Linked DNA regions of Homo sapiens: regions 2, 3 and 4 are each linked to region 1. The links come from fine-mapping of genetic effects on gene expression. A gene starts in region 1. Each other region holds a variant in brackets. All regions are shown on one strand. Distances are from middle to middle.

The links.
Region 2: its variant is fine-mapped to the expression of SPATA7 in pancreas (GTEx, PIP 0.96).
Region 3: its variant is fine-mapped to the expression of SPATA7 in monocytes (Quach 2016, PIP 0.95).
Region 4: its variant is fine-mapped to the expression of SPATA7 in esophagus muscle (GTEx, PIP above 0.99). The same link has a PIP of 0.9 or more in aorta, cerebral cortex, fibroblasts, monocytes, prefrontal cortex and sigmoid colon.

The regions. Positions count from the first base shown.
Region 1 is chr14:88,380,924-88,389,032 of GRCh38, forward strand. It overlaps SPATA7 (spermatogenesis associated 7), which reads left to right and starts at 4,734. Exons shown (of 12, transcript NM_018418.5): 1 at 4,734-4,914. The coding sequence starts at 4,896. RefSeq lists enhancers at 4,417-4,496, 4,527-4,596, 4,607-4,926.
Region 2 is chr14:89,185,508-89,193,616 of GRCh38, forward strand. The region is part of intron 4 of FOXN3 (forkhead box N3); the gene reads right to left. Among named protein-coding and RNA genes, the nearest start is that of FOXN3-AS3, 160 kb to the right of the region's middle. RefSeq lists a silencer at 2,847-3,031. The variant C/T (reference allele first, on the strand shown) is at 3,965.
Region 3 is chr14:88,438,355-88,446,463 of GRCh38, forward strand. SPATA7 (spermatogenesis associated 7) reads left to right here. Exons shown (of 12, transcript NM_018418.5): 12 at 1-106. The coding sequence ends at 68. Among named protein-coding and RNA genes, the nearest start is that of SPATA7, 57 kb to the left of the region's middle. The variant AT/A (reference allele first, on the strand shown) is at 4,586.
Region 4 is chr14:88,357,642-88,365,750 of GRCh38, forward strand. No RefSeq gene overlaps it. Among named protein-coding and RNA genes, the nearest start is that of SPATA7, 24 kb to the right of the region's middle. RefSeq lists an enhancer at 6,980-7,787 and a silencer at 7,124-7,418. The variant G/A (reference allele first, on the strand shown) is at 3,448.

The sequences.
Region 1 (8,109 bases):
TATGTTCGCAATAACTCAATAAATAGAAAAATGTTGTTTTGAACTTTGGCTTCTTGTTGTTTTCACTGTATTTACTGGAACATTTTCTAAACACACAAATATAAATTCCAGGAATCCTCTGAATTATGAAACTAAGGGTCATCCATAAAGACATAGATTAAATATATAATAATAACATAATGCTTAAAATAATAATATATAATAAAACAGAATAAACAATAAACTATATATTATTTGCATAACTATAGGTTATGGTATTAAAATATATAGTTTATTTCACTTATATAAAATTGAAATATATTGTATATTTCAAATATATAAAAGCCCATTTCCAAAGGGCTTAGAGCTCATCCAATAAGACAGGCCTAATTAAACCATTAAAAGAAGAAGTCATATTCCTAATAAAGGGAATTAACGAGATAAATTTTTAAAAGGCTATGAATATTTATTTCAACTGAGCACAAATCTTAGTTTTGAGGTTCCTGTAAGCTAATACAAAAAAAGAAACCCAGTAATTGATTAGTTCATGCCAATTCATTAAGGGAAACAAAGTATTTCCGTCTAAAACACACATATGGGTCAGGCACAGTGGCTCATGCCTGTAATCCCAGAACTTTAGGAGGCTATGGCAGGTGGATCACTTTAGGCCTGGAGTTTCAGACCAGCCTGGCCAACATGGCAAAACCCTGTCTCTACTAAAAATACAAAAATTAGCCAGGCATGGTGGCTCACGCCTGTAATCCAGCACTTTGGGAGGCTGAGGCGGGTGGATTGCCTGAGCTCAGGAGTTCAAGACCAGCCTGAGCAACACAGCGAAACCCCGTCTCTACTAAAATACAAAAGAAATTAGCTGGGTGTGGTGGCATGCACCTGTAGTCCCAATTACTCGGCAGGCTGAGGCAGGAGGATTGCTTGAATCCGGGAGGCGGAGGTTGCAGTGAGTCAAGATCACACCACCGCACTCCGCCTGAGCGATGGAGCGAGATTTCGTCTCTACAAAAATAAATAAATAAATAAACAAACAAAAACACATATGCAGATTTCTAAATGTCAATAACAAGATTATAGCATTGGAATAATTTCAGAACATGAAATTCAGGTGTAAACATATATATTCAACAAAAGGTCTTCAGAATGCCTACTCTCCAAGGCCATTGCAGCTGGTGATGATTTTCCCAATAGAAGGGTGTTTCTTGGGAGCTCACCCTATAATAAACTCATACCAGCTGTATCCATCACCCATGATCATGAATTATTTCCTGGGAATAGCAACCAGAAAGAATCTTCTCTCTTGTTTACATACATAGAGCCAAAGCAAAGGACAAATTAAATTGCACTTAGGATAACATGTTCATTGCTAAAATTTGAGAGACATAGACCCTATTATGCACACATTCTTGAAATAATTGGAACAAAATATTGAAAGGGAAATAATGAAATAGATGGCTTCAGACAAAGTTGGGTACCAGACAATATGGTCTCCAGAAGTTTCTCCCATTCTGCTGCCCTCTCCAGATCACGCACCCCCCCGTTCTACTTGAAAACAAAATCTACTTGTCATCCTAAAGTCTACTTTTCTAAGAGGAGCTGGTATCACCTTCCCTGAGTCAAGTCACTGTGTTGCTTATCCCAAGGGTGTTTGCCTTGGGTTCCTTGTTTCTAATTCAATTTAACAAATGCTTACTGGAGGCCTATTATATGCAAAGTATTTGCTAGCTGCCAGTAGTGAAATAAAGGCCTTCATGATCTTAGAAATGGATTTCAGGCAATAATGAGTACCTAGGAAGGAGTTTTTGTTCTCTGCATGATATGATTTGGCTCTGTGTCCCCCTCCAAATTTCATGTTGAACTGTAATCCCCATGTTGGGGGAGGTACCTAGTGAGAGGTAATTGGATCATGGGGGTGGATTTTCCCCTTGTCGTTCTCATGATAGTGAGTTCTCATGAGATATGTTTGTTAAAACATGTGTAGCACTTTCCTCTTCGCTCTCTCTCCCTCCTACTCTGCCATGTGAAGAAGCTACTTGCTTCCCCTTTGCCCTTCCACCATGATAGTGTTTCCTGAGGCCTCCCCAGCCATGCTTTCTGTACAGCCTATGGAACTGTGAGTCAATTAAACCTCTTTTCTTCATAAATTACCCAGTCTCAGGTAGTTCTTTACAGTAATGTGAGAATGAACTAATAGACTGCATAACATCTGACTCCCTGCCCCTGTATCCTTCCAAATTACTTTTGTTGTTGGGGCCACAGAGCCATCACACACACTTCAACATGCCTCCAATTTTGAATCATTGTCTGCCTACCCTGGGTTTTAGGAAAACAGGGGTTCAAGCGTTATTATAACCGGGTTTCTGATTTATTTCTCCTTCCTTGTTACAGAGTTTCTGACTTACTCCCTCAAGCCTGAATTCCCTGATACCCAGCTCTGCTGAGATAGGAATCTCAGAAGAGAGAAAGCTAACATTTATTGAATACATTCTTTTATTTGCCAGGCACTGTTAATTCTTTTAACTATAAAATTAGTAGCATCATTTTTTCATCCCAAGCAACAGAGAGGTAGACTGTTGATGAAAAGAGTCAAACTCTGTAAAATATTTTTAGAGATTTATTCTGAGCCAAATATGAGTGACCCTCAGGAGGTCCTGAGAACATGTGCCCAAAGTGGTTGAGGTGCAGCTTGGTTTTATACATTTTAGGGAGGCATGAGACATCAATCAAATAAGAAATACATTGGTTTGGTTCAGAAAGGTGGGACAACTCAATGAGTATGTAAATTTAAACATTTCCTGGTTGACAATTGGTTGAGTTTATCTGAAGGCCTGGGATCAATAAAAAGGAAATGTTGGGGTTAAGATAAAAGATTGTGGAGACCAAGTTTATTGTGCAGAGGAAGCTCTCAGTATAGCAGACCTCAGAGAGAGAGCAGATTGTAAAATTTGTCTTGTCGGACCTAAAAGGGTGCCTGGCTCTTAGTTGGTTATCTCCTGGATTTGGAAAGGAAAGAAGGAAAACAAAGGGGAAAAGAGATTCTCTATAGAATGTGGTTTTTTCCCACAAGAGATTTTGCAGGGCAATTTCAAGATATGGCAAGGAAATATATCTTGGGGTTAAATATTTTGATTTTTTTTTCCTTGTCTCATAATATTATGCCAGAATCAGATTGGAAAGTAAGTCATGGTATATAGAGTCAAATAAAACCCATCTGATAAGAATTTATGGTTTCTAGGGCATGACTCCCTAGACACCTTAGATAGGAATTTGGGCAAGATAAAAAAATTAGAGCTTAGTCCTCAACTCTACAGAAGAAAATGACATTTACCCAGGAATGGGCATTGCAATAGGAATATGCGTGCCATGGCAAACTGTTTGCATATTCAAGGAATTAAAGGAAAAAAAAGTTTTTTTAAAAAATAAAAAAAGGAGAGGATTACATAATTGTTTTGAGGTAATTAGCCTTGGCTCCAAGCATCAATAACAAGGGTGATGTCAGTTCAAGGTTGGACAGACAATTGCTGGACAGATGTCCTCATAGAAGTATCTTTTTGGGTAAGGTGGAGGTCTTTGTGCAAGGTTGTGGTTTTCGCAGTATTTTGTGATAGTTTTATTATCAGGCATTCATGGATGAGAACTCTCCTTCATGGCCTTCTCCAGTTCCACTTGTCAGGTTTTCTAACACATGTGACTCTATTTTTGATTCTGACAACTTTCACAATCTACATTAGAAAAGAGAAAACTGGGGCTCAGAAAGTTTTAGAAACTAATTCAAGATCAAGCTGGTAAGTAGCAAAAAATTTAGAATTAAGTTCTACATATCTGGTTCCAAAACCAGGACTCTTTTCATTACAGCAGTGGTTCTCAACAGAGTTGCGATTTTGCCCCCCAGGGAATATTTCACAATGTCTGGAGACATTTATGACTGTCAGGATTGGAGGTGGAGTGGGTGGGGTCTGCTTCTGAGAAGCTACTTGCTTCTAGTAAACGGAGGACAGGGATGCTACAAAACAGTTCATAGGGACAGCACCCCCACAACAGAGAATTATACAACCAGCCCAAAATGTCAATGGACATTTGGGCTGAGAAGTCTTACATGACAGAATGCTTCCTACCCTGATCTGACGTTATTTCCAAGGATTCAAAGGTAACTGCTTCAAAATTAAACAAATTATAGAAAGCCATCAATAAATCAACCCCTTATTCATGTTGCAGCTCTCTTCCATTATAAATAAAAATGGATTGAAACTTACGATAAAAGGGAGGCAGGGACAGGAGCGGGGAAGCTTGGCGAGCAGAAAGGAAATTCAAACTTATTATTAAGGTTAAGAATTAAGATGTAAATATGTAGATGTTTTTCACCCCTAGGATTTTCACTAATCCAAAAGTTCACGGACTGCTTTGAAATTTAATTATTTGGAACTGGTTAAATGTTACCCTGACCTCAGCTAACATTTGTGTTTCACTTTTCTCCGGGACCCAGGGGACGTGGATGCCAGATGAGTCCACCTCCTCTCCCTGCTCTTCCCGCAGGGACAGAGCCTGCCAGGTGCTGGTGACTCGGATCCTGACAGGAGGTCGCTCTGCGGAAGACTGGCAGGATCCCAGAGCAACAGACTGGGGCTCGATGCCCCTTCCCCGCCAGGTCTCTCCGTCCGCAACTGTCCTCCTAGTACCGGGTATCCCGCAGGCGGGGCTGCGGAACGCACGTCCCCTGCGCCGTGACGTCACAATAGCGACTCACTGGACCCAGCCCTTAGCAACGGCCTGGCAACGGTTTCCCTGCTGCTGCAGCCCCCGTCGGCTCCTCTTTTCCAGTCCTCCACTGCCGGGGCTGGGCCCGGCCGCGGGAAGGACCGAAGGGGATACAGCGTGTCCCTGCGGCGGCTGCAAGAGGACTAAGCATGGATGGCAGCCGGAGAGGTAAAGGGCAGCTGTCAGGGGCTACCGCCGCCTCGCCCCTCGCTCCAGGCGGCGCTCCCAGCCTCGGGTCCGGGCAGCTGAGTGCAAGGCCGCCCCTTGGGGCGCTTCCTACCCCTGGCTGAGTCGCCAGTGTTGCCTGGAGCTGCCCAGGCCTGCGCAAAGGAAGAGGGAGAGCCTGCTTGCCAGCCTCGCAGGTCCGCTTCTTTGCCCTGAATTTGTCGCCCTGACACCAGGGGCCCCTGTCTCCTGAACTCAGGGTCGTGCAGCCTTTAAAACCTCAGTAGCTCCCAGGCAGAGGAACCAGGTTTGGTCTTTGGAGTCAGACCTCCCCGGGCCCCAAATCAAACCCCTCTGCTCTCCATGGAGACGACCCTCAGTTTTCTTATCTCTTGAACGTGAGGGTCAAATACCCAGGCCATGGAGTTCTTGAGGATTAAATGCAGATAATATAGAGAAGATCCTGGCGCATTTGAAGTGGTCAGTAAATACGAAATCTCCCAGTAACGAACTACCTCCCCCAAAGCTACTGAGTAACCCAGGGTTTCTGTAACTTTCTGTGAATAGGAATCCCCTCAGGGTCATGTTAAAATGCAGATTATGATTCAGTAGGTCCCTTGGGGGTGGCTGAGATTTTGCATTTATAATAAATTCCAAGTAATGCGGTGTTGCTGGTCAGCGGACTGCAGTTTTAGCAGCAATCCGTACTCACCATATACACCTGTTCTCTACTGATTTCTTGAGTCAGGTGGACATCATGTGGTGGGGTTGGGGGTGGGGAAATACAATCTTAAATATCTACAAATCGGCCCAAACCAAATAATTTGCATTTTCACACTTTCTGAGCCAGTATCATTCTTTCCTCGAGTCAAATGAGGCAATCTTTATAGACTCCCCGCCCCTCCCAATTCAGTGTTTTTATCTATTTAAAAGACTGCCTTTAAACCAAGCTGCTAGATGATTCCTTGATGTCTTTCTTTGAATGAGTCTGCCTTTATTATATAGTCATTGATCAAAATAAGTGCTACTCCGAATGTAGGAGATAACTATTCATTGATCAGCAAACTATTCTGACACTTCACCAACCTAGGTTTCAGAAAAAGCAAATCAAAACGCTTTATGATCTTAAGAAATTTTGCATATAAACTAACATTAAACCCTTGCTATGTACTAGGAACTATTTCCAAATTATCTCATTTAATGTACAAAAATACCTTGATAGGCATTAGCCTTATTTCATAGTGAAGAAACTAAAGCAAAAGATCACAAATAACTTGCCAAGATCACAGCGGCAGAACAGGATTTGAATCTAGGTGAAGAATATAAATCTGAAGCCAATGCATTTACTTACTATCCCATGGTAGGGATGGGCAGGGGGAAAGGATAAATGTAACATTTAGAGTATGGTAGATTTAGTAAGTTGTCAGTATTTGTTTATTGAATTATTTTAAAAATTGGGTTCATGCCAAATGTAAAAAGGTTTATATTTTTACAACTTGCACAATTTAATTAGCTTCATTTTTAGGAAATAATATATGATAATGTCAAATACTGTTATTTTGAATTTTTAAAATAAATGTAATCACCAAATAACCAGGGCAGTCAGCTTTCATGTACTGTAAATTAATAGGAAACCATAAATAATTTTAGACACAGCTAAAATAATTGAGAATAAATTTCTTAGATTTCATTAGGAGGTGCTTTTAGTTATTTCAGAGCATAAAATATTAAAACATCTAAAGAAAAATTATCTTTTGTCATGCTCTTACTGTAATCACGTTTTAGACATTCTTTTGTAAGGCAAGCCTTCTAAATGGTGGTATAGTACAGCACCAGACTGAAAAACGGTTAGTCTTGTTTGTAATCTTTGTTTCCTACTAACTAACTAGGTAATCTTCAGCATGTCACTGTACGTCCCTGGGCCTCAGTTATTTATAAAATGGGGGCTTGGACTAGGTATATATAAGGCATGGTTTCCAGCTTCCTATGGGGGAAGGTGAAGAAAAGATTGAGAATAACAAACTGCCATTCACTCTAATATCAATGACCTTTAGGAAGGAGAGGAGACAACCTATTAGTATATTACTGAAAGTAACTTGAAAAAAAATTTTTTCCCAGCACTCTGGGAGGCTGAGGCAGGTGGATCACTTGAGGTCAGGAGTTTGAGACCAGCCTGGGCAACAGAATTAAACCCTGTCTCCACCAAAAAATACAAAAATTAGCCAGGCATGGTGGCGTGCGCCTGTAGTCCCAGCTACTCGGGAGGCTAAGGCAGGAGAATCACTTGAACCTGGGAGGGGGAGGTTGCAGTGAGCCAAGATCATGCCACTGCCCTCCAGCCTGGGCAACAGAGCAAGACTCCATCTCAAAAAAAAAATTGTTTTGATCTGTTGGTCTCATAGAGACACTTATCAATGGTAGATTTCCAAACCTTTGGTTTTCCAGAGAAACCTTGCCACAAGAAACACTTTCATCTTTCCTCACTGGACTTTCTTCTGGCTATTTTAATCAAATTGTGTAGGAAAATGGGCTGCTCTCATATACCAGTGAATTTCACCACTAAGACCTTCAATCTCATTGACAAGATTTTAGTCCTAATAGTTAGAGAATGATGTTCTTTTCCTTGGCATTTGGTTTGAGGCTACTTCTCCATGCCCCTTTGGCTCATTCTGGGTCCAGTCCAGTCAGGAGATAGAAACCATACAGTGATTTTTATACAAGGAAAAGTTAAAGAATTGTTATACTTTCATAAAAGAGTAACTATAAGATGTAAGGGGCTGGGCGTGTCAGCTCATGCCTGTAATCTCAGCATTTTAGGAGGCTGAGGCAGGAGCATCACTTGAGGTCAGTGGTTTGTAATCAGCCTGGGTAACATAGCAAGACCCTGTCTCTAGTATATAAAACAAATTAATGAATTAATTAAAAAGATAAGAAAACTGTATTTGGTACCTAGAATTACGGGAAAGTACTCAAAGAAGGACAATTTGAAAGAGAGTTTCTCCCAAAGACTGGGGTTCAGACCTCATTAGAGAAGGCGTGATTGTGCACTTGCCCAAAGCTTCATCACCGAGGAGTGATATCGGAGGCTTCACATTCCATGGGAAATAGACTTTGATAAATTGCTTAGCCAAGTCACTAAACAAACAAGTGAACAACAATGAAAACAAGCTCAGGAGAGGATTCTGTATCTAGAGTTGC
Region 2 (8,109 bases), 800 kb after region 1:
CCAAAACCTTTACAGCCAATCTGACGCACCTGATGTACTGAAGTGCACTGGCCTCCAGCTATGTAAGACATCAAAAGGGCTGGACGTTGAAAGTCAACTTCTTCCTCGGATTTGTGGCTCTCTCCAGACAAGGCCCAGGCCTCTAGCATCATCCTTGCAGGTTAGGCCAGTTACGTATTTATCTTTTAGATGAGAGAATACCCACCCCTGAGGCTCTCAGGATGAGGGACATTGGCGCCACACTTCCCCACACTTGCCATCAGCCACGTTCTCTGCAGTTAGAGAGGGACTCTTAAGCTTTCTGGTTTTAACTAGCAAGAGGGCAACCTTCACACATAAGAAGAGAGCCAAACAGAGCAGCACTGCTCATTGTAGATGCTATGTTCTAAATGGGATAACGCAATCCTGAGAATCTTAAAAAGAAAAAAGTCTAAGGTCCAAGACAAACTCCTCCACGCTACATTGTCCCTCAGCACTTCCCCAGCTCCCCTCCTGAGGCTTAGCTTCCTTGGTTTTTCACAACTTCTAAAATTAACCTCTGAGCTCTTGCCGCTGCCTTTGGAGGGCAGCCCTGGCTAACTCTCTCAGAGGCCATAAGCTGAGCAGCAGGTGATTCCGCTAATCCTTCCCTTTCCTAAAGTCAGCCTTTCCACCTGCTTACTTGGAAGCACACTGGGGAGGGGGCTGGCACGGGGAGACACAGCCTATTTCCTAGTTGTCTTCCCTCTGCTGTGCCTGGTGTGTCTGACATACATCCCAGTTCCAGGCAGGGGGAGGAACGCCTTCCCCCAATCCCTCCCCTTCCCTCGTTCCATTTTGTTGTTTTGTTTATTATCTAGTTTGTCTCTGGGAACCTTCCAACCAGGGATTATATAAGCCTTTGAAGATGAGTAATGGAGATCTGGCTTCTCCTGACTAACAAGTCCTCCATTGGGGTTAAAGCTGACTCACGGGGCTTGTCAAACGGGAACTGCAAAGCAGGTACTGAAGGAGATACTAGAAGCTGGAATGAATCTACATAGCCATTTTGAGGGTGGAGAGGGTGGGGTAGGCAGATGGATTTGACTGGAGCATAATCCAAAGTCCAGGGGGTAATGAGCCAGCCATGTCCCATGCTGACTGTTCTGAAGGCAGCATCCTATAGAGCGCGTGAGACATGGTGGCTCTCCTTGCAGAATGTTTCCTATGCTGCAAACGGGCAAAGTCTAAAAGGGCTAATGTCACATGCACAGCGGATGCTGCCAGGAGGACAAAATGTTGTAGCCTGAGGTTTTTATTAGGTGCACACTGCCGCTGCACTGCAAGTGAAGCATTAGACTGAAATGAGAGGTGGAGGGACCCCTAGGGACTCCAGCCCAAGCAAGACATGGTGTGCTGGGCTCCCTTGGGGCAACACGGACCCTCCAATGATAAAGAGGCTTGCTCTGCCTGGGGCTCTCACCAGAGTCTGAGCCATTTCCTTTGTGCAACCTAGTCAGCTTCAGACCCTGGACTGTGGCCAGTCTGCCGGCCTTGAGCTACCTTTACAGATGCTGAGCAAGGGTAGGAGGAAGAGAAAAGATCTAAGTGGCTGCCATCTGGTGACCTGGAGTGGCTATGAAGGGTGAGGACAAAGGAAAAGCCTTCCAGCTATCCAGGCCAGCCTCTATCTGCTGGGAGCAGAACAGCAGCAGAGACTAGGTTGGTGGCCCCCATGCAAGCAGGGGCATCTAGCAGCCCAAGAGGTGAAAACAAGGGGCTATAAATAGCACCGCACGAGGAAGCTCTATCAACAGAGCCCAGCCATAGCACCAGCCCACGGGGGAATACAGGCAGGCTCTGCGCAGACAGGAAATGTGTTGCTCTCCGAAGCCACACTCTCCACTCATGGGCAGTGGCAGGACCCCTCAACCTAGAGAAGACCTGGGATATATCCACACTGGGACACAGGCACACAAACACCCCTACATAGGCTGCCCACACACCATCACTGTGGCTGGCTGGCTGTTGCCTTTAACCATTTTTGCACAGGAATAGCCTCTCACTTTTTCCAGGCCTTGGGCGATGCCGGCAGGGCAGGGGATGACTGCCTAATCATTCTGCCTGTAATGCTTCTCCCTTAAGAAGGCAAAGGACTGCCTCAAATCCCAAGGCAAATAACGTTATGCAATATAAAATGAAAAGAAAGGTGGCGGGGGTAGGGGGCACGGAGAAAGAGTGAAGCCAGAAAGAGCTAACCACAAGCTGCAGATACATTCCTCTGGTTGGGTTTATGGGGAGGATGGGCCAGCTGGCTTCCCAAGTGCACAGAGAAGACGCTCCATGCATCTTCACTCCCTTGCTAAGGAACTGCTCCAATCCTTGGGGTCCTTACAACCTGCTCCTTGACTGTACTTGCCCTTGACCTCCAGGGCATTGAACCAGGGCTGGCGGTCAGATGGGACGGTGAATGCAAAGGTAGACTCCCTACTTTCTGCCCAGTCTTCACATTTACTTCTCTGTTATTCCTGTCCATGAGCGTCTCCTTCTGTGACCTTTGTAGGCACCCCGGGTTCTTTCCTTCCACTGTCTTGGAGCCCCGTTCTTGGCCTGGGGCTTTCATGAAGGCTGTGGCTGGATTTCTCACACAGCGGTAATAGCCTTCTAAAAAAAAGCCTTCTAAAAATGAGCCTACAGCTTCAAAACATGAACACTGAGCTTGTAAAACTCAAATTCAGCATTTCAATGTAAATAGGACCGTGGCTACCCTGGAAAAAGAAGTATTTACAGTCTGAGTATTACAGAGTTGGAGAGGGGAGGCGAACACTGAAAACAACTCACTTGTCAACTCATCAGGAGAAGCCTTTTTCCTTTCCTACCTATGCTCAAGAATCCAGTAATCATGGACGTTTATGGAAGCTGCTGAGGATCTGTGAAGGATCAATCAGTCCCCTTGCCTGGCTTGGTTTCATTTCAAAGATATTCCAGGCTCCAGCAGGCCTGCTTCACCAGACTCTTCTCCAAAATGGCAGCTTGGTGATGAGGTCCCAGAAGAGACAGAAATTTCTAAAAATGGGTACTGCTCCGGTCCATTACGTTTAAGCTGGCCCCATATAGCCTCTTCTAGCAGAAGGTCATGGTCCCATTTTCCCTCTGAACTTCAGCAACCAGCTGGAAGTATTTTTGTGAAACTAATGATCACTGTGTAGTGGCTGGGTGCAAAGGAAGGTGCTCGAATCTTACATGGCTCTGATGAAATCAGTATGTTTCCACTGGGTTGAGTTATGCAACTTAATTTTAGAAATCTTTTCAGCCTGGAACTTGATTACAATCTGGTCTGTACTTTTCCTGCAATGCCATCTAAGAATGGAAGTTTATTTAAAAAAAAAAATTTAAAAACATATACATTTCTCTGAAATATGAAACATCATTTAAAAACCACACTCCAGGTTAACTGCTAGTTATAGAGCTAGGCCAGTGACACATCTGCTTAGCAGTGGTGTTTGCATGTCAGAGGTGTAGGCAGCCCAACATTGCAATGGCTGGAGGTCTGAGTTTGGAAAGAGAGAATCAGAACTCTAGACTGTTCGGAACAGGTAATGGCAGCTCCAGGCAGAGGAACAAGTCTCCCTGAGAATGCTCAGCTGAATTTCTTGGGTCTTTTAAAATAGGAACAAATAAGAAAGGTTGGAGTCAAATATCCTAAAGTTGTCAGGAAGGCTGGGACAAGCAGAGGGGCTATGACGGATGGCCTGGAACTCCACGTAGTCCAATACTAACAAAAGGCACCTGTTTTGGGTCTGAGGATGGATGTTTTCCTGTGTGAAGTAGCATCCACTCCAAAGGCAGGGACTTCCCACTGCTCAGCAAGCCATGTGGCCCTCAGAGAGCCAGAACCCAAAATGAGCTGAAGGCCTAGCCATAAGAAGGAGATAGGTGAGTGCCAGCCCCTAAGCGGTGGTGTTGTAGTGGCGTCTGCTGCTTCATGTCACTATTTCCTCACTAC[C/T]GTGTTTCATCAGTAAGAGGCTGTAACACAGCAATGTCCTAACAACAAGCTGAGCAGACCTTGGTAAACCAGCTGTCTGTGTGTTCAACAGGGTTCTAGCTGGGTATGGGATGTGGGCACTGGTACTGACCTCGAGTGGGGAGAAGGAAGGGACAGATATCTTTGTTTGAAGTCACTCTTCATCCCTTGGGAAGAGATCTTTCTAAAACCATGGTAGACTATCTCCAGAGATGGTAAAAACCTCAGGTGGTGAGAAGAGAAGTCTCAGTAAGGAAATGTTGTCTCAAACTTGACATTGTTGAAGGCCAACAAAAAGAAGGTGAGGATGGGAGTCCTGCTTAGCTAAACAGCCCTACCCTGCTATCTGGGGCAGCCTGGGAGGCTGGATAGAAATGGTCCAAGCTGGTAGCGTGGTTTCATTTCAAAGATATTCCAGGCTCCAACAGGCCTATTTCACTAGACTCTTCTCCAAAATGGCAGCCTGGCGATGAGGTCCCAGAAGAGAAAGAAATTTCTAAAAATGGGTACTGCTCAGGTCCATTAGGGTTAAGTTGACCCCATGTAGCCTCTTCTAGGAGAAACTACAAACTCACAGGAACAATACCTGCAGGAGCAAGGAAGGCCTCTTCACTGGGACTCATTAAAGGATCTGTTTCCCTTTCCCCAAGTCTTAAGTCCTGAAATTATATAAGAACTTTCTCATCTTGGAAACACACCTATGCATTCATTCATACATATGCATGGCTGCATGTTTATATGCATATGCATGTAATCATGCACTTATGTAGCTTTTAAAGTGATTCTATAAGGGAAGTTCTACTTTAGCATTAGTTCTTCCTATGACCTGGTGTATAAATGAGAAGGTTAAGTTCACAAACTATGGTGCTGTAGGCTATAGAAATATCTACTCACAACCTGCTTGTATCTCAGGGGGAGTATTCAAAAGCATCATGGCACTGGCAGCATCAATGTCAGGATCTGGAAAAATCAACCAATAAATAACATTATTTACAACGGGGCCGGTGTGTGTGTGTGTTTTTCCCCCTGCAAGTTACAGTTTATGAATGCAACAGAGAAAAAAAAAATATCCAGCAACTGGATGAGCTATCCCAAAGGCGACTTTCTTCCCAGTGGGATTTGAGAAGAAGAAAAGGTATTCTAGAATGAGATTTAAGGATCATGTTAGTAAATTTTTCATCACACAAGCATGGTTTCTTCTCATTTTGTTAATTTTATAATTTGCACTGTATGTTCCTGATAAATTGCTGATCTATGCACCCCCACAGCTTTTACCGTGGGGTGAGGAGCAGGAGAGTCAGTGACAATAGGAAGTTCAGCCATATGAATCTTTAATGAACTGGGGAAAGCTCACAGCATCAAGAAAGCATTAAATACACCTGCATCTAGTGAGATACAAACAAGACATGTGGTCATTTCCATTTGTCAGCAGAATGTAAATTGTGTTTCACGAGGTTATGTGTTTGTAACAGTGGTGTGGATGTGGTGAAGGCATTAAAAAAAAGCACTTAAAATATAAAGAAAAAAGTAAAGTTGTCATGTTGAGGGCACAATGTTTGCTTCCACTTCTATTATTGCTTTTAATATGGGTAAAAAAAAAATACTCATCACTCCATTGCTATAATTCTTAATAGGTTTCTGAATCCTTACTGATCCACCAGTTGACAGATGGCAGGTTATATAGAGACAGAGAAAAATATTATCCTTTTATAACTAAATTCATTTTCCTCTGAGAAACAGCAGCTCTGCTGCTATGGAAATGAAGGTCACCATGGCAACAGTAAACAACCCCCAAGAATGGTCACTGAATAGGCTGAAAAGAACATCTGCCCCAGCGCAGCGTCCCAGCTGCCCTGGGGCGAAATTCACTAATAGTGCGGTGATGCCGCGTGACAGAAGCTGCCGCCTGTGCCCTGTCCAAATAAATGAAGTGTGCAATTGAAGTCGACATCAAAATGCCTTCCCTTGCAGATTACTGCCTCTGTGTCCGCCAAACCCAATGACTAATGATGGGGGACAAGGGGCTCGCACTTGTCAGTTTTTGTACAAATTACATACCAAAAAATTCAATTTGCTACTAATGGCTCCATGGCACCTTATTTTGGATATTATGCTAGAAAATTACTTTTTTAATGTTTAAAAAAGTACATTTTTCATACTTTATATGTGTGGTTTAATTCCAAAGGAGTAACATGATTGGTAAAAAGAGGCCCACAAGCGATTAATGATATGGATAATGCTGGTTCCCGAAAACAGGGTCTCAAAAAAAAAAAAAAATAGAACTTGACTTTGAAGAGTTTTTTTTCTATTTTGCCTGCAGGAGGCCTGTTACTTACATTCCATAATGGACTAAAAGTTTATTTTAATAAGTACATTATATGAGAAACAAGTAAATTAACTTATTTGGCAACCCTAGGGGTGAAATTCCTAAAACAGTCACCATTTCCCACTGATATTAGTATATATATATATACACATATATATAACTATAATATATAATATATATTAGCTAATATAATTAATCATTAATCATCAACTAACATATATAAACTATTATATATAATAATATACATACTATATTAGCTATTATATATAATAGTATATATACAGTTTATATATTTGGCAACTCCAGGGGTGAAATACCTTAAACAGTCACCATTTCCCACTGATATTAATATATATTATATATTAATATATTAACTACAATGCACATTAAATATGTATATGAATATTATATATTAAGTATATTATATTAACCATTATATATAACAGTATATATTAAGTACTTATATATACTATATAATAAACTATGCATACTATTATATATGATCATTAATAAAATATATAGTTATATGTAATAGTATACAGTTTATATATTAACTATTTTATATAAGTTAATATACAAACTACAAAATATCAGTTTATAATAGTTGTAATAGTTTATAATACATAAATTATATATTATATATAAACTATAGTTTATATATACTATTACATATAATAGTTAACATTTTATAAACTATATATTAGTTTATAATAGTTGTATATAACTTTATAACATATGAATTATACAATATATAACACATATGTTATATGTAATATAAACTATATAATATAAGCTATATAAACTATATAATATAAACTATATAAATCTTATATAGTTTATATATACTATTATATATAATAGTTAATATACACTACTATATATAATGGTTAATAGTTTATACTATTATATAATAGTTAATATATGTATACTATCATATATAATAGTTTATATATTATTAGTTGAATTTTATATATTTAATATATATAAATATATAAGATATAGAAAAATATATATATTTATATATAAAACCATTCAGCTAAAAAACTAAAAGTTCTTCCCACTGCCCCTGTGGCTCCCACTGCCCCGGGTCCCTTGGTCCCCCACAGGGCCTGTTGCCTGCAAGCAGCACTCACAGCCCCAGCATTCTTGCTGGCATCTCACAAGTCACAAGGGACAAGCAGTTCCTAAGGGGGGCTGTTAAGGCCTCAGGCCTTTCCCTCTTGCCCCTCGTTTTAGAAAGGGCCTTTTCCTTTCTCAGGGGGTAGCCAAGAAAAACGATTTTTTCCTGCCAAGCAAAAGGTCTCTGCCATTATTGAGAACGAAAGTGCTACAGGTGACCATGGTTGGCCTGGCTACATGGTCCCTGCCTCCGCAGGTGACTCGTACCCAAAGTTTTTCTCGGTGGCCAGGAGGTTTGCTGGGCCCAGAACAAGAAGAAACACAGGGAGGAAGTCTGGAGTCTTTTCCTATTTATATGGCCAGAAAATTAAAGAAAATATTTCAGTATTCTTCCAAAACACATTAAAGGAAATTGTAGAGGGACACAAATAAAAAGAAGACATAGTGAAAGAAAGAAAACAGAAAGAGAGAAAGAAAACCTTAAAGGAAAAGTATTCCATCAATAATCACACATGTGGGAGAACCTAAGTGGGACATTCCCAAGGCACACTTGTGGGGGTGCTTTGGATCTGTAGAGCATCCACCTATGACCCCCCACCCCCCCACCTTCTGTTATTCATCAAAGATGGGGTGTCAATAGTTCATTCCTTATGGCTATCGCTGAGTGGTAGTCACTGAACGG
Region 3 (8,109 bases), 57 kb after region 1:
ATGACATGGAGTTATCAACTCTTAAAATCATGGAAATGAGCATTGAGGACTGCCCTTTGGATGTTTAATCTTCATTAATAAATACCTCAAATGGCCAGTAACTCAATATTACTTTTCTTCCTTTTTTAAAATGTATGTATAAGATTTCTCTATTGGTTTTCTGTGCTGCAATAATAAGTTACCAGAAACCTAGCGGCCTAATGTGCCACACATTTATTATTTATCCCACAGTTTTGTGGATCAGGAGTGTAGGCACAGCTTAGTTGGGTCCTCTGTCCTGGGTCTCACAAGGCTACCCCACAATCAAGGCAGTGGCTGGGGCCATGTTTTCATTAAGAGGCTTGTTGGCAGAATTATCCTCCTTGCAGTTATAGATTTGAGGGCTTCGTTGTCTTGCTGACCAGTGGCTAGAGGCTGCCTATAGTTCTCTGCCACTTGGCCCTTTCCTTAGGGAAATTATAACGTGGCTGCTTGCTTTTTTAAGGATATCAGGAAAACCAGAGAGATTCTGCTAACAAGATGGAGTCTTATATAATGTAACATAATCACAGGAGTGACTTTCTATCACCTTTACCGTGTTCTTTTGGGTAGAAGCAAGTCACAGGTCTTGCCCACACTTAAGGGTTGGGAATATATACAAGGGTGTGAATGCCAGAACACAGGAATCACTGGGGTCATCTGAGGACCTGCTGGCCACAATTTCTAAAATCACTTTTCAGAGGAAAACATATTTTACCTATATTTTCAGAGGAACATATTTTACCCAGACATAAGCGGTTTTGTAGGCTATGGGAAATGGTTTATGATCTGGTGTGAGTCTTGAAGCGTTGGACCTTGTCTGCAATATCTTTAATTTTGTTTTTCTCACTTTTCCTGCAATATCTAAAGCCTCAAGGACCTTTCAGTTGTCAGTGACCCAGGGAATTCTGTCAGCTGGCTGAGATGTTGTCTCTTGTTGTGAGTGCAAACATTTAGTCAGACCTGTCTGAAGCCCTCTCCTACCCTTGTAGCTCATGAATGAGACCCTTACTATTAGAACATGGCCCAGCAGATTCATCTCTAATTATACCTTTTTAACTATTTACAATAATATAATTGAATATTTGTGTGCCCATTATGTACAAAGTTTCATGCCTAGATACTGTGGAGGATAAAAACAATAACCCATTTTGTTTTTATAAGCTATATTTTAATTTTATATTTAAAAAAATACAACCCAGGTATTCTTCTAAAAACTTAACAGTGACTTCCAAGTATCCTGTTCTTTAACTCGGGTTTTTATCATCCTTTGGCCATAGCAGTGTTTCCCAAAGGGTGGTACTTACCACTGGAGACCTGAGAGTTGATTTTAGTGGTATGTGGATGACAGGTCCATCTCATTCATGGGATGCTGACCATCACCACTGTCTTCAGGATAAGACACAGGTACAACCTGCAAAGCACAATATGGTGGGACTGAGCACCCAACCCACTTTTCACCTCCACTGTCGGAATCCCCAACTCACCCTGCTACAACCCTTTTTTGGCACACCTTCCCCTCAGCCCTCACCTCTGGACTTCTTCCCTTTAACCCTGTAAGCAACACCGTCTATCCCCTCTTGCAGTCCTCTTAAACCTCCTGAAATAACCTTGGCTCTATTCTTGGTCCCCAGCCTGGGTCTCCCCATCTGTTAGATCTTTACCCCTCTAGTTGCTTCTTGGGTTCTGTTGTTCCTCAGCCCCAGGGTTCCTTTCTTCAGTCCCAGCCTCACTCTTTCACAAACCCCCTCTTCCCATTCCCCATGTAACTACCCCAGACCTACTGGCCTGGCCCAAATTTTCCTTCCTTGGCTGGAGCTACCATCTGTCTTTCCGGAGGCATTCTCAGAAACTATCTCCTGGCTGCTGTTCTCCAACACTTTGGTCCAAGCCCCAGACCTGCCCTATTTGACATTCAGTCTTCATGCTCTAACTCTGGGTACAGCTTCTTGTCTCTGGGGCCATGACCCATCCTAATTTGGATACCTATTAGGACAATTTGTTGTTATCCTTTAGTTTCCCTTTAAGTTTTAAAAGGTGAGTTGATTTAAAGAAATATTAAAAATGGTTCTTGAATGTGGCAAAAGTATTATAGTATGAAGGTAGGATGTGGGTGGTAAGTTTGGGAAACAGCACTTAAACTCTTCTAGCAGCATCTTTTTTTATCCCTAAGACATCTTGTTACAGCATCAAGCAACATCTTTATATCTTCCCCTCTTCCTTCTCACACAGCCCATCAACTGAGGCTGAGAGGCATGATGAATGCGAGTGTGTCTTCTGAGCCAGGTTGCCTGGATTTGATTCCTTTTGAGCTGTGACTTTGAGCTGGGTTACTGAGCCTGTGTGTGTTTTCTCATATCTTGGAGAGGGGTAATTATAGAGCCTTTATCATAGAATACAAGAATTAAATGAGCTTGCATGATAAATACAGGCTGCTGCTACTTTTTTTTTTGCTATTTATTTTTTATTTCAGTAGGATTTTGGGAACAGGTGATGTTTGGTTACATGAATAAGTTCTTCATTGGTGACTTCTGAGATTTTGGTGCACCCAGCACCTAAGCAGTGTACATTGTACCCAATGTGTAGTCTTTTATCCCTCACTCCCCGCCTACCCTTTCCCCTCAGCCCCCAAAGTCCATTGTATTATTCTTATGCCTTTGCATCCTCATAGCTTAGCTCCCACTTATGAGTGAGAACATACAATGTTTGGTTTTCCATTCCTGAGTTACTTCACTTAGAATAATGGTCTCCAATTCCATCTAGGTTGCTGCAAATGCCATTATTTCATTCCTTTTTATGGCTGAGTAGTATTCAATTGTGTGTGTGTGTGTGTATATATATACACACATCACATTTTCATTATCCACTTGTTGATCGATGGGCATATGGGCTGGTTCCATATTTTTGCAATTGTGAATTGTACTCCTATAAACATGCGTGTGCAAGTTATCTTTTTTGTATAATGACTTCTTTTCCTCTGGGTAGATACCCAGGAGTGGGATTGCTGGATCAAATGGTAGATCTACCTTTAGTTCTTTAAGGAATCTCCACACTGTTTTCCATAGTGGTTGCACTAGTATACATTCCCACTAACAGTGTAAAAGTGTTCCCTGTTCACCACATCCACACCAATATCTACTATTTTTTTATTTTTTGATTATGGCCATTCTTGGAACAGTAAGGTGGTATCGCGTTGTGGTTTTGATTTGCAGTTCCTTGATAATTAGTGATGTTGAACATTTTTTCATATGTTTATTGGCTATTTGTATATCTTCTTTTGAGAATTGTCTATTCATGTCCTTAGCCCATTGTTGATGGGATTGTTTTTGTTTCTTGCTGATTTGTTTGAGTTACTTGTAGATTCTGGATATTAGTCCTTTGTCAGATGTATAGATTGCAAAGATTTTCTTCACTCTGTGGGTTGTCTGTTTACTGATTATTTCTTTTGCTATGCAGAATCATTTTAGTTTACCTAAGTATCATCTGTTTATCTCTGTTTTTGATGCATTTGCGTTTGGGTTCTTGGTCATGAACACTTTGCCTAAGCCAGTGTCTAGAAAGGCTTTTCTGATGTTATATTCTAGAATTTTTATAGTTTCAGGTCTTAGATTTAAGTCTTTGATCCATCTTGAGTTGATTTTTCCATAAGGTGAGAGATGAGGATCGAGTTTCATTCTTCTACACGTGGCTTACCAATTGTCCCAGCACCATTTGTTGAATAGCTTTGTTGACAGTCAGCTGACTGCAAATATGTGGCTACATTTCTGGGTTGTTTATTCCATTCCTTTGGTCTATATGCCTGTTTGTTTGTTTGTTTGTTTGTTTGTTTGTTTTTGAGGCAGAGTCTCACTCTGTCACCCAGGCTGGAGTGCAGTGGTGTGATCTGGGCTCACTGCAACTTCTGCCTCCTGGGTTCAAGCGATTCTCCGACCTCAGCCTCCCAAGTAGCTGAGATTACAGGCACCTGCCACCATGCCCAGCTAATTTTTGTAGTTTTAGTTTGTAGTTTGTAATTTTAGTAGAGACGGGGTTTCACCATGTGGGCCATGTTGGCCAGGCTGTCTCAAACTCCAGCATAGAAGGTATGTTCCTTCTATGCTGATTTTGCTGAGGGTTTTAATCATAAAGGGATGCTGGATTTTGTCAAATGCTTTATCTGGTCTATTCAGATGATCATGTGATTTTTGTTTTTAATTCTGTTTATGTGGTATATCACATTTATTGATTTTCAGATGTTAAACCATCCCTGCAGCCCTGGTATGAAACCCACTTGATCGTGATGGATTATCTTTTTGATATGCTGTTGGATTCGGTTAGCTAGGATTTCGTTGAGGATTTTTGCATCTGTGTTCATCAGGGATGTTGGTCCATAGTTTTGTTTTTTTGATATGTCCTTTCCTGGTTTTGGTATTAGGGTGATCATGGCTTCATAGAATGATTTAGGGAGGATTCCCTCTTTATCTTTTGGAATAGTGTCCATAGGATTGGTACCAATTCTTCTTTGAATGTCTGATAGAATTCAGCTGTGAATTCATCTGGTCCTGGAATTTTTGGTTTTTTGTTAGTA[AT/A]TTTTTTTTTTTTTTTTTTGAGATAGAGTCTCGCTCTGTCACCTAGGCTGGAGTGCAGTGGTGCGATCTCAGCTCACTGCTGCAACCTCTGCCTCTTGGTTTCAAGCAACTCTCCTGCCTCAGCCTCCCAAGTAGCTGGAATTACAGGTGCCTGCCACTGCGCCCAGCTAATTTTTGTATTTTTAGTAGAGACATGGTTTCACCATGTTGGCCAGACTGGTCTTGAACTCCTGACCTCGTGGTCCACCCGCCTTGGCCTCCCAAAGTGTTGGGATTACAGGCGTGAGCCACTGTGCCCAGCCTATTTTTGTTGGTAATTTTTAAATTACCATTTCAATCTCACTGCTCGTTATTGGTCTGTTTAGAGTTTTCTGTTTCTTCCTGTTTAATCTAGGAGGGTTGTATATTTCCAGGAATGTATCCATCTCCTCTAGGTTTTCTAGTTTATGCATGTAAAGCTGTTCATAGTAGCCTTGAATCATCTTTTTTGTTTCTGTGGTATCGGTTGTAATATGTCCTGCTTATTTCTTGTATTTATTTATTTATTTATTATTATTATACTTTAAGTTTTAGGGTACATGTGCACAATGTGCAGGTTAGTTACATATGTATACATGTGCCATGCTGGTGCGCTGCACCCACTAACTGGTCATCTAGCATTAGGTATATCTCCCAATGCCATCCCTCCCCCGACCCCACGACCCCACAACAGTTCCCAGAGTGTGATGTTCCCTTTCCTGTGTCCATGTGTTCTCATTGTTCAATTCCCACCTATGAGTGAGAACATGTGGTGTTTGGTTTTCTGTCCTTGAGATAGTTTGCTCAGAATGATGGTTTCCAGCTTCATCCATGTTCCCACAAAGGACATAAACTCATCCTTTTTTATGGCTGCATAGTATTGCATGGTGTGTATGTGCCACATTTTCTTAATCCAGTCTATCATTGATGGACATTTGGGTTGGTTCCAAGTCTTTGCTATTGTGAATAATGCCGCAATAAACATACGTGTGCATGTGTCTTTATAGCAGCATGATTTATAGTCCTTTGGGTATATACCCAGTAATGGGATGGCTGGGTCAAATGGTATTTCTAGTTCTAGATCCCTGAGGAATCGCCACACTGACTTTCACAATGGTTGAACTAGTTTACAGTCCCACCAACAGTGTAAAAGTGTTCCTATTTCTCCACATCCTCTCCAGCACCTGTTGTTTCCTGACTTTTTAATGATCGCCATTCTAACTGGTGTGAGATGGTATCTCATTGTGGTTTTGATTTGCATATCTCTGATGGCCAGTGATGGTGAGCAGTTTTTCATGTGTTTTTTGGCTGCATAAATGTCTTCTTTTGAGAAGTGTCTGTTCATGTCCTTTGCCCACTTTTTAATGGGGTTGTTTGTTTTTTTCTTGTAAATTTGTTTGAGTTCGTTGTAGATTCTGGATATTAGCCCTTTGTCAGATGAGTAGGTTGTGAAAATTTTCTCCCATTTTTTAGGTTGCCTGTTCACTCTGATGGTAGTTTCTTTTGCTGTGCAGAAGCTCTTTAGTTTAATTAGATCCCATTTGTCAATTTTGGCTTTTGTTGCCATTGCTTTTGGTGTTTTAGACATGAAGTCCTTGCCCATGCCTATGTCCTGAATGGTAATGCCTAGGTTTTCTTCTAGGGTTTTTATGGTTTTAGGTCTAACGTTTAAGTCTTTAATCCATCCTGAACTGATTTTCGTATAAGGTGTAAGGAAGGGATCCAGTTTCAGCTTTCTACATATGGCTAGCCAGTTTTCCCAGCACCATTTATTAAATAGGGAATCCTTTCCCCATTGCTTGTTTTCCTCAGGTTTGTCAAAGATCAGATAGTTGTAGATATGCGGCGTTATTTCTGAGGCCTCTGTTCTGTTCCATTGATCTATATCTCTGTTTTGGTACCAGTACCATGCTGTTTTTGTTACTGTAGCCTTGTAGTATAGTATGAAGTCAGGTAGTGTGATGCCTCCAGCTTTGTTCTTTTGGCTTAGGATTGACTTGGCGATGCAGGCTCTTTTTTGGTTCCATATGAACTTTAAAGTAGTTTTTTCCAGTTCTGTGAAGAAAGTCATTGGTAGCTTGATGGGGATGGCATTGAATCTGTAAATTACCTTGGGCAGTATGGCCATTTTCACAATATTGATTCTTCCTACCCATGAGCATGGAATGTTCTTCCACTTGTTTGTATCCTCTTTTATTTCCTTGAGCAGTGGTTTGTAGTTCTCCTTGAAGAGGTCCTTCACATCCCTTGTAAGTTGGATTCCTAGGTATTTTATTCTCTTTGAAGCAATTGTGAATGGGAGTTCACTCATGATTTGGCTCTCTGTTTGTCTGTTGTTGGTGTATAAGAATGCTTGTGATTTTTGTACATTGATTTTGTATCCAGAGACTTTGCTGAAGTTGCTTATCAGCTTAAGGAGATTTTGGGCTGAGACAATGGGGTTTTCTAGATATACAATCATGTCATCTGCAAACAGGGACAGTTTGACTTCCTCTTTTCCTAACTGAATACCCTTTATTTCCTTCTCCTGCCCAATTGCCCTGGCCAGAACTTCCAACACTGTGTTGAATAGGAGTGGTGAGAGAGGGCATCCCTGTCTTGTGCCAGTTTTCAAAGGGAATGCTTCCAGTTTTTGCCCATTCAGTATGATATTGGCTGTGGGTTTGTCATAGATAGCTCTTATTATTTTGAAATACGTCCCATCAATACCTAATTTATTGAGAGTTTTTAGTATGAAAGGTTGTTGAATTTTGTCAAAGGCCTTTTCTGCATCTATTGAGATAATCATGTGTTTTTTGTCTTTGGTTCTGTTTATATGCTGGATTACCTTTATTGATTTGCGTATATTGAACCAGCCTTGCATCCCAGGGATGAAGCCCACTTGATCATGGTGGATAAGCTTTTTGATGTGCTGCTGGATTCGGTTTGCCAGTATTTTATTGAGGATTTTTGTATCAATGTTCATCAAGGATATTGGTCTAAAATTCTCTTTTTTGGTTGTATCTCTGTCCGGCTTTGGTATCAGGATGATGCTGGCCTCATAAAATGAGTTAGGGAGGATTCCCTCTTTTTCTATGGATTGGAATAGTTTCAGAAGGAATGGTACCAGTTCCTCCTTGTACCTCTGGTAGAATTCGGCTGTGAATCCATCTGGTCCTGGACTCTTTGGTTGGTAAGCTATTGATTATTGCCACAATTTCAGATCCTGTTATTGGTCTATTCAGAGATTCAACTTTTCCTGGTTTAGTCTTGGGAGGGTGTATGTGTCCAGGAATTTATCCATTTCTTCTAGATTTTCTAGTTTATTTGCATAGAGGTGTTTGTAGTATTCTCTGATGGTAGTTTGTATTTCTGTGGGATCGGTGGTGATATCCCCTTTATCATTTTTTATTGCATCTATTTGATTCTTCTCTCTTTTTTTGTTTATTAGTCTTGCTAGCAGTCTATCAATTTTGTTGATCCTTTCAAAAAACCAGCTCCTGGATTAATTAATTTTTTGAAGGGT
Region 4 (8,109 bases), 23 kb before region 1:
GATTGGCTAGGATTATGTATAACTGTAAGTAATGGAACATTTAGTTCTCTCTTCTGAAAGTCTGAAGATAGTAGCCCTTCTAGGTTGGTATGAGCTTCCATAGTATCAGGGACTCAGATTCTGATGTAGTTTGGTTCTGTGTCCCCACCCAAATCTCATCTCGAGCTGTTATCCCCATGTGCTGAGGGAGGGACCTGTAATCCCCACATATGGAGGGAGGGAGGTGATTGGATTATGGGTGACATTTCCCCCATGTTGTTCTCATGATAGTGAGTTACTTCTCATGAGATCTGATGGTTTTATAAGGGGCTCTTCCCCTTTGCTCTTACTTCCCTCTCTCGCCTGCTGCTATGTGAGACATGCCTGCTTCCCCTTCCGCCATGATTGCAAGTTTCCCGAGGCCTCCCCAGCCACGAAGAATTGTGAGTCAATTAAATCTCTTTTTTAAAATAAATTACCCGGTATCAGGTATTTCTTTATAGCAGTGTGAAAACCAAGGGAGGCAGGTCCCAAGAGAACCATTCTTTTGTAGGTGCCAACAAAAAGGGGAAATGTGATTCCACTCTCTGGTTTAATGTCTACATTAGTCAGTGGATCTGCTCACCTGCCCCTGTGATCCAGGTGGAGGGGAATGAATTAAGAAGACAAGGAATGATGGAGGGTGGTAAGACAGAGAGAGGCCACTTCCTTTCTTTGCATCCCTTCCATAGTTCCAGATCCCAAGAAGTACAGAAAAGGATCCCACAGGTACTTGTAAGTCTGTGAGTCTGTGGCCTACAGTCTCTAGCTGGGGATTGCTGTAGCAGGGGTCAAGGAGGCAAGCACACTGAAGCAGTGGGGGAATATGCGGACCGAGGGTCTTCATTTGGAGTCAAATCTCACAACATATTACCAACATCTGGGGAAGCTGCTTGGGGAGGCTGCCATCAGAGGGGCATGCTAGAGCCATCGCTTGTCTACATTGAACCCTCAGACAACAACGGTGTCAACCACCCATGAGAGCTACGTAAAGACAAGTCAAATAAGGAGCTGGGTCTTTCTTGTTCCTTTTCCTTCTCCAGCTCAGCATCAGAGAAGCAGGTGCATGGAGGGAGGAAGAAGGGGTTATATGAAAGCAGATCATGCCCCCTCAAATGCCAGCCCTGGTGCCCACTGGTCTAGCCAATGCTGGGAGGAGTGGGGGAGAAGAGCTTTGGATCTGAAAAAAAATTAAAGTTTAAATAAACAGAGCTGAGTCTTAAAAACTGAAAGTGACTTTTAATTACTGAAAATGACAAAAAGCTAAAGAATCAGGCTGAAGTGTTATAAAGAGCCCCTGTCACCCAGTGAGGAGGGGACTGTGTTAGAGCAGCGTTGAAAATAGTGGTTGGGAAAAATAAGTGTTCTTTGTTTTTACCCGCAAATGAATTGAGACTCCTTCCTCAATGAACCAAATTTGTCCTTTAGTCAAAATCACACCAGTGAAGCAGCCTATGCCAATTTGAACAGATCCTTGTCTACTCCCTCTTTCCTCCATCTGGAAACAGGGATACCACTATACTAAGCAAGTGATTCCCAAAGCTAAGACTTCTAAGTACCACCTACATGGCTTTTGCCATATTGTTATACCACCTGTACTATTATTTACTTTATAGTTTTCCCTTGAATTTACTCACTTTAAAAATTAACCATATTTTTAAAAGAAACTGGCTCAATTATAATTGGAAGAACAGTACAGTATTCCCTTCTTAGCCATGAAAAATGCATTCCAAGATCCCCAATGGATGCCTGGAAACATGGATAGTACGAAACCCTAAACACACACTGTCTTTTCCCATACGTACTACCTACGATGAAGCTTAATTTATACATTAGACACAGGAATAGATTAACAACAATAACAATAAAATAGGACAACCCTAACAATATACAGTAACAAAAGTTATATGAATTTAGGTTCTCTCTCTCTCTGTAAACATCTCATTGTACTGTACTCACTCTTCTTGTGATGATGTGAGATGATCATTGAGAGGGCTACTAAGTGACTCATTAGTGGGAAGTGGAGACAGCGTGGAGACACTGGACAAAGGGAGGATTCACATCCCACATGGGACAAAGCAGGACAGTGCAAGGTTTCATCATGCTATTCAGAATAGCACACAATTTATAACTTAGAAAGTGTTTATTTCCAGAATTTTCCACTTAATATTGTTGAAGCATGGTCGACCATGGGTAACTGAAATCTTGAAAACCAAGCCCAATTACTACTGTAGAAATTGCCATAAATGAGCACAACAAAGATGATACTCTCAAATCTTATCTAAATACTGTGGCCTGAGCCCAAGCTTTGATCTTTGTTAGAAAGGGAGATTAGCAAGGGTGAGAGGTGCTAAAGACACACTAGTAACAAACAGAGACTTTCTCCTTGATGTAATTAGGGTTGAAAGAATTGCAAAGTGAATGACTTTCTTATGGGGTAATTCAAAGTTTTTTAATGCTGTGACTGAGCAATAATGTATGAAATTAAAAAACCTCACCTGAGAGGAAGCATGTTCTGCTATATAATGATGCCAGCAGTACATACCTGCCTCCAACATCTTGCTAAGCAGCTTTTATAACTACCAGGGAACTTACACTGAAAGGTGATGTGCTAAAAGATAAGTCTTAGAATCTGAGGGCATGAAGTGCTATGGGTACATATTAAATGCTCTGACAGGTACGATTCTTTCATTGCAAGCAACAGAAAAGAATTTGTTGGCTTATGATATGGTCTGGCTCTGTGTCCCCACCCAAATCTCATCTTGAATTGTAACCCAAATTGTAATCCCCACGTGTTGGGGAAGGGACCTCGTGGGAGGTGACTGACTTGACCAGGGCAGTTCCTTTGTGCTGTTCTCATGATAGTGAGATCTCGTGAGATCTGATGGTTTTGTAATAGGCCTTTCCCCCCTTCACTCTGCACTTCTCTAATTCTTCTCCTTCCTGTCTCCATGTGAAGAAGGACGTGTTTGCTTCCTCTTCATCTGTAATTGTAACTTTCCTGAGGCCTCCCCAGCCATGCTGAACTGTAAGTCAATTAAACCCCTTCCCTTTATAAATTGCTCAGTCTCAGGTATGTCTTTATTAGCAGCGTGAGAACAAACTAATACAGCTTATATAACTGGTAGGGCCAGAGGCAGAGCTCACTTCAACCAGAGTTGTATTTGGATGATAAAATAGTCTCTTCAGGAGGTGTTCTGAGTCTCTTTGTCTCTCTCTTCCAGCTTAGCAGATGCAGCAGAAAAAGTCAATACTAGAATCTCTAGCAGCTATGTCCCAGGGAGGTTGCCGATAGGATGGTGTGCTGACCAGGGCCCCACACCCACCTGGAATGAATGCCTGAAGCCAGCTTGCCTGGGAGTGTTCTCCTGGATCCCATTCCCATTTCCTGTGATAATAGAGAGCTAGAAGAAAAGAAGGGACTGGGAA[G/A]GAGGGAAGATCAAGACCTAGGATGAATTTCCCACAGGAAGACAAGGGAAAAGGTGCTAGGCAGTCAAAAACAAGTGTTCACAACAAATGCCTTCTCTGCACCAGGCATAGCCAATATGAAAATAACCTAAAAGGTCACTTAATGATATTTTAAATTACAAAGAGTAAATGTGTGTTTAATGGTCCCTGTTGCCTGGGCAGCAGACACCGCTGATGCTCAGCCCACATCTCCTCAGCCCTTACCACTTTATTGGATGCCAATCCCAACTTCAACAGCCAGTGTGTGCACCTTACTGCTTACAGCTTTCTCTGAACATGGAAACTTACTTACATGCCAATAGGGCAAGTCAGAAGGCCAGGGAATTAGCCACCTAAGGCCCTTACAGCCCTTAGACAAGTACAGTTGTTAGATGGTGGATCAATGCCCTAGCTTCCCCACCCCTGGGGTAGGATAACTGCTGAGTTCTGTACTGTTTCCCAGCTCCTTCCTGGTGGGATTGAGTTCCAGTTACCCACAGTGGTAACTTGCTTGATAGCATTCCTTTTTTGGCTTCCTTCTCTTCTCTCTCTCACTTCCATGTCCCCCTTCTAGTGTTTATTTGGACCATCTCCTAAATAAACTACTTGTACTTGAATTCTTGTTCCAGAGGAACCCAAACTATGACAGCCAAAAGTAGTGGTAAGTTATTTAAATGTATTACCTCCTGTCATTCTCTTAACAATCACATGAATTGTACACTATTATTATGCTATTTTGCAGATAAAGAAATGAGGCCCTTAGTAAAGGCCACACTGCTGGGGAAAAGCACAGCTAGAATTCAAAGCAGGTTGACTCCAACACACACTTAACAATGGCTGCTGTGCTTCCTGACACTTTACAATATCCCTATAGACCCCCAGCTTCCAGTGATTCTATTCAAAGCAGGTAAATCCCAGAGCATCACTGAAGGGGATGTAAATGAACTGGAGAAAGTACTGTTGTTCCGTAGAATCCCAGGGGGAAACGTGACCCAAGTAGCCTTGCACGTAGTAGGTGCCCCTTAATATTTATTGAAATAACATGTGGCAGTATTTACTTTACAAAACATCATTAGTGTTATTCTTTATGCTATCCTTGAAAAAGGGAAGCTTTCTGAGGGATAATTCTCCAGTAAAATGTTTCTAAATCAATACAAATGACAGTCCCCCTGGATTACGATAAAGTAATCATCTCCAGAGTAGAAGAAAATTGGACTCAACCGTGTTCAGAATAATACATGTTGCTCTTTTACAAAAAAAATGTATAACTTCAAAATATACATATTCTTACTTATCTAGGACAGCTTAGGTACAGGTTTGCCTAAGACCAAAGACTGAAGCAAATTCTCATTGATCTTTTCCATTTTATACATCCCCAATTGCATATGAAAATCATTTTTCTATTATTTTAGGTAGCACATGCATAAGAGAGTGAACACGCCTAAGGACAAGTCACTGAAATAATTGTCTTCCTGCCTATTTCCTGATTTAGTGGAATGAGCACGAAATCAAGAGTCATAAAGACCAATTGTGTGGGCTAATTACTTATCTTTTCTGGGCTCCATAGCTTTTTCTGCAAAATTAGAACTTTTGCTTAGCAATCACCAGCATCCTCCTAGCCCCTAAATTTTCTGACAAACAAGGGAAAATATTTGCTTACCTCCAGCCTTGTGTACAAACTGAATTAAAGAGTGTCGGAACATCACTTCTTCTACCTTGTTCAGATATTGTACAGAAACATTCACTCTGCATCTTATAAATAACACAGAGGAAGTCTTTCTGTACCCAGATCACCACCAAACTTTCTATCTTGACTGTGCTTTCACTGTGGGAAATATTAATAGCTCCTGTGTTCATTGTGACCTCAATGTTATCATAATCTCAGGTTGCCTATAGGTATAAACTTCAGTGAATACTTAACGTTACAGAATGATAGGCTGTTTTCATAACACATTTTCACACTGTTGGATAATTTAGATTTTGTTTAAAAACATAATGAACACTAAGAAGTTGTTTGCAGACAAGGAAATGGAAGACTTCAAAGAGGATAAGAGAAATCTCACATTTAATTCAATTAAGTCAGAGAATGAACATGTCTAAGGATGTCAAGAACCACCCTCCCACCTCCATTTTCTAAGATTACTTACTCAAATATTCTAAAGAAATAATTAATTTAGTCTAAATTAAATCTAAGTTTCTAATAGTGTTCTTCAAATACTTCAAACTACTAGGTAGAACCAAGTGATATTGTCTAATTGACAATTTTTTATTTATAAAACAGCAATTTCATGTCATTCAATCTAATAATTTAGAGTGTTTCTGTATATTGCAGGCAGACATCTAACAAGACAAAGAACTAAAGTGTGACTGGAGTGGAGACTGAAATCCCTTAGAAAGACTAGGCAAAGTATCAATAAAGAATGGTTTTCATTGGTAGCTTACATAAATCATGGCTTTTAAAAATTGATTTGTGCGTGGCAGTTTGTGAATAGTAGATGCACTTATAAGAGCTTTTCAAAAATTCTTTAACTGTTAAAACTTCAGATTCTATTTTTTTAAGTGGAAAAGATATTATCAGGATAGATGAACAGATTGGTTAAGCTTTTTGTTTTGCTTTGTTTTTCATGGTGAAGCCACTTGTAAACAGAGAATGCATTCGGTGGAGATTATCAAAGCTTTAGGGTGAGCATCCTCCCAAATGTACTGTTGTGGAGATTGATTGACAGTGGAAGAATAGATGGAATGCTCTTCTTAAGCTATGGGGACAGGTTACCTAGTAACCACTGAATGATTAAGTTCTGTTCACAGAGACTTGTTCTGTTAATTGGACGAAAAGATTTAAAGAGCGCAGCTGGGGAGAAATGGAAAGATGGAGGACCGTGGCCATTATTAGTGGACCTGACCAGCAGCCTTAGCCAAATTGTCACAATATGAGTGAATCTTCTGTTAGTACAAAGAAGTCAGTGAAGCTACCTACAGAGTCACAATTTTGTGCACTTTTTAACTGTAGGAAAAATGAAAATAAGGTGTGGAATTACACATATTAAAAAGTGCAGTGAAAACTGTGCGGTGTTATAGTTCTGAGAATGATCATTTTCTGTGGACAAGATTATATTTGTGTTCAGATATCAGAGTTCTATTATTTAAGAGAACTCAAAATAGGCACTTGGGGTCAGTATATCCTATCACAACTCTCTTCGGTCTAATACCATCAGGCACATACTGCTTTATAGAGAATTGTGGTCACCTCTGTTCTCTCCTGCTTTTAACAATAAAATTAAGAAAAGTCAAGGTATAGATTGGTAATAATGACATTTTTCATTCATTAAGGATTAAGAAAAAGCAAGGTATAGTTTGGTAATAATGACATTTTTTATTCATTAAGGATTTTTAGATGATAGAGTACTTTTTGCCTATGCTCAAAAAAGAACTCAGTATTTATATTTTAGAAAGGAAAAAGTATCTAAGACAAGTCTCAATCAATTTAGAGATTTATTTTGCCAAGGTTAAGGGTCATGACCTATGACACAGCCTCAGGAGGTCCTAAGGACATGTGCCCAAGGTGGCTGGGTTATAGCTTGATTTTATGCATTTTAGGGAGACAGAAGTTACAGGTAAAGACATAAATCAATACATGTAAGGTATATATTGGTGTAGCCAGGAAAGGTGGGACATCTTGAAGGTGGGGGTTAGGCTTCTAAGTCATAGGTGGATTTAAAATTTTCCTGATTGGCAATTGGTTGAAAGGGGTAAGCTCTGCCTGAAGAGTTGAAATCAGCTTGAGTGAAGGTAACTGGGGAGGGGTGGGTTGTGGAAACCAAGGTTTTTGTCATGTAGATGAAGCCTCCAAGTAGGAGAATTCAGAGACAATAGATGTGAATGTTTCCTATGGAACTTTAAAGGTCGGTCAGACTATTCAGAAAGACCTAGTAAAGGAAGGAGATTCTCTACAGAATGCAAATTTCCCTCACAAGAGACAGCTTTGCAGGACCATCTCAAAATATATCAAATAAATATATTTTGGGGTAAAATACTTTCGCTTTCTTCAGGGCCTACTATCTGTCACGTGATGCTATACTAGAGTCTGTTTGGAACTTGCTGGCTTATTGCTACAGAGCCTGTTCTGTCAGTCTTAGAATTCCTGTTTTCATATTAATGCTGGTCAGTTGTGCCTGAACTTCAAAGGGAGGCGGGTATAATGAATATGTCCTACCTTCCCCTTCCTGTGATGGCCTGAACTGGTTTTTCAGATTCCTTTGGGTCCCCTTGGCTAAGAGGAGGATCCATTCAGTCAGTTGGGGGGACTTAGAATTTTCTTTTGGTTTACCATATATATATGTATGTATATGTACACATATATTATCTAATTGGAGAAGCTCTACCTTGGAGCAGAGCTTTTTTGTCTGCTTGGGTTTTTTTTTAATTTTTAATTTTTGTGGGTACATGATAGGTACATGTATTTATGAGTTGCATGAGATATTTTGATACAGGCAAGCAATGGATAATAATCACTTAAGAGTGAATGGGATATACATCTGCTCAAGCACTTTTCCTTTATGTTACAAATAATCCAATTATACTCTTTTCATTGTAAAACAAAAAGTATCTGAGGCAGGTCTCAATCAATTTAGAAAGTTTATTTTG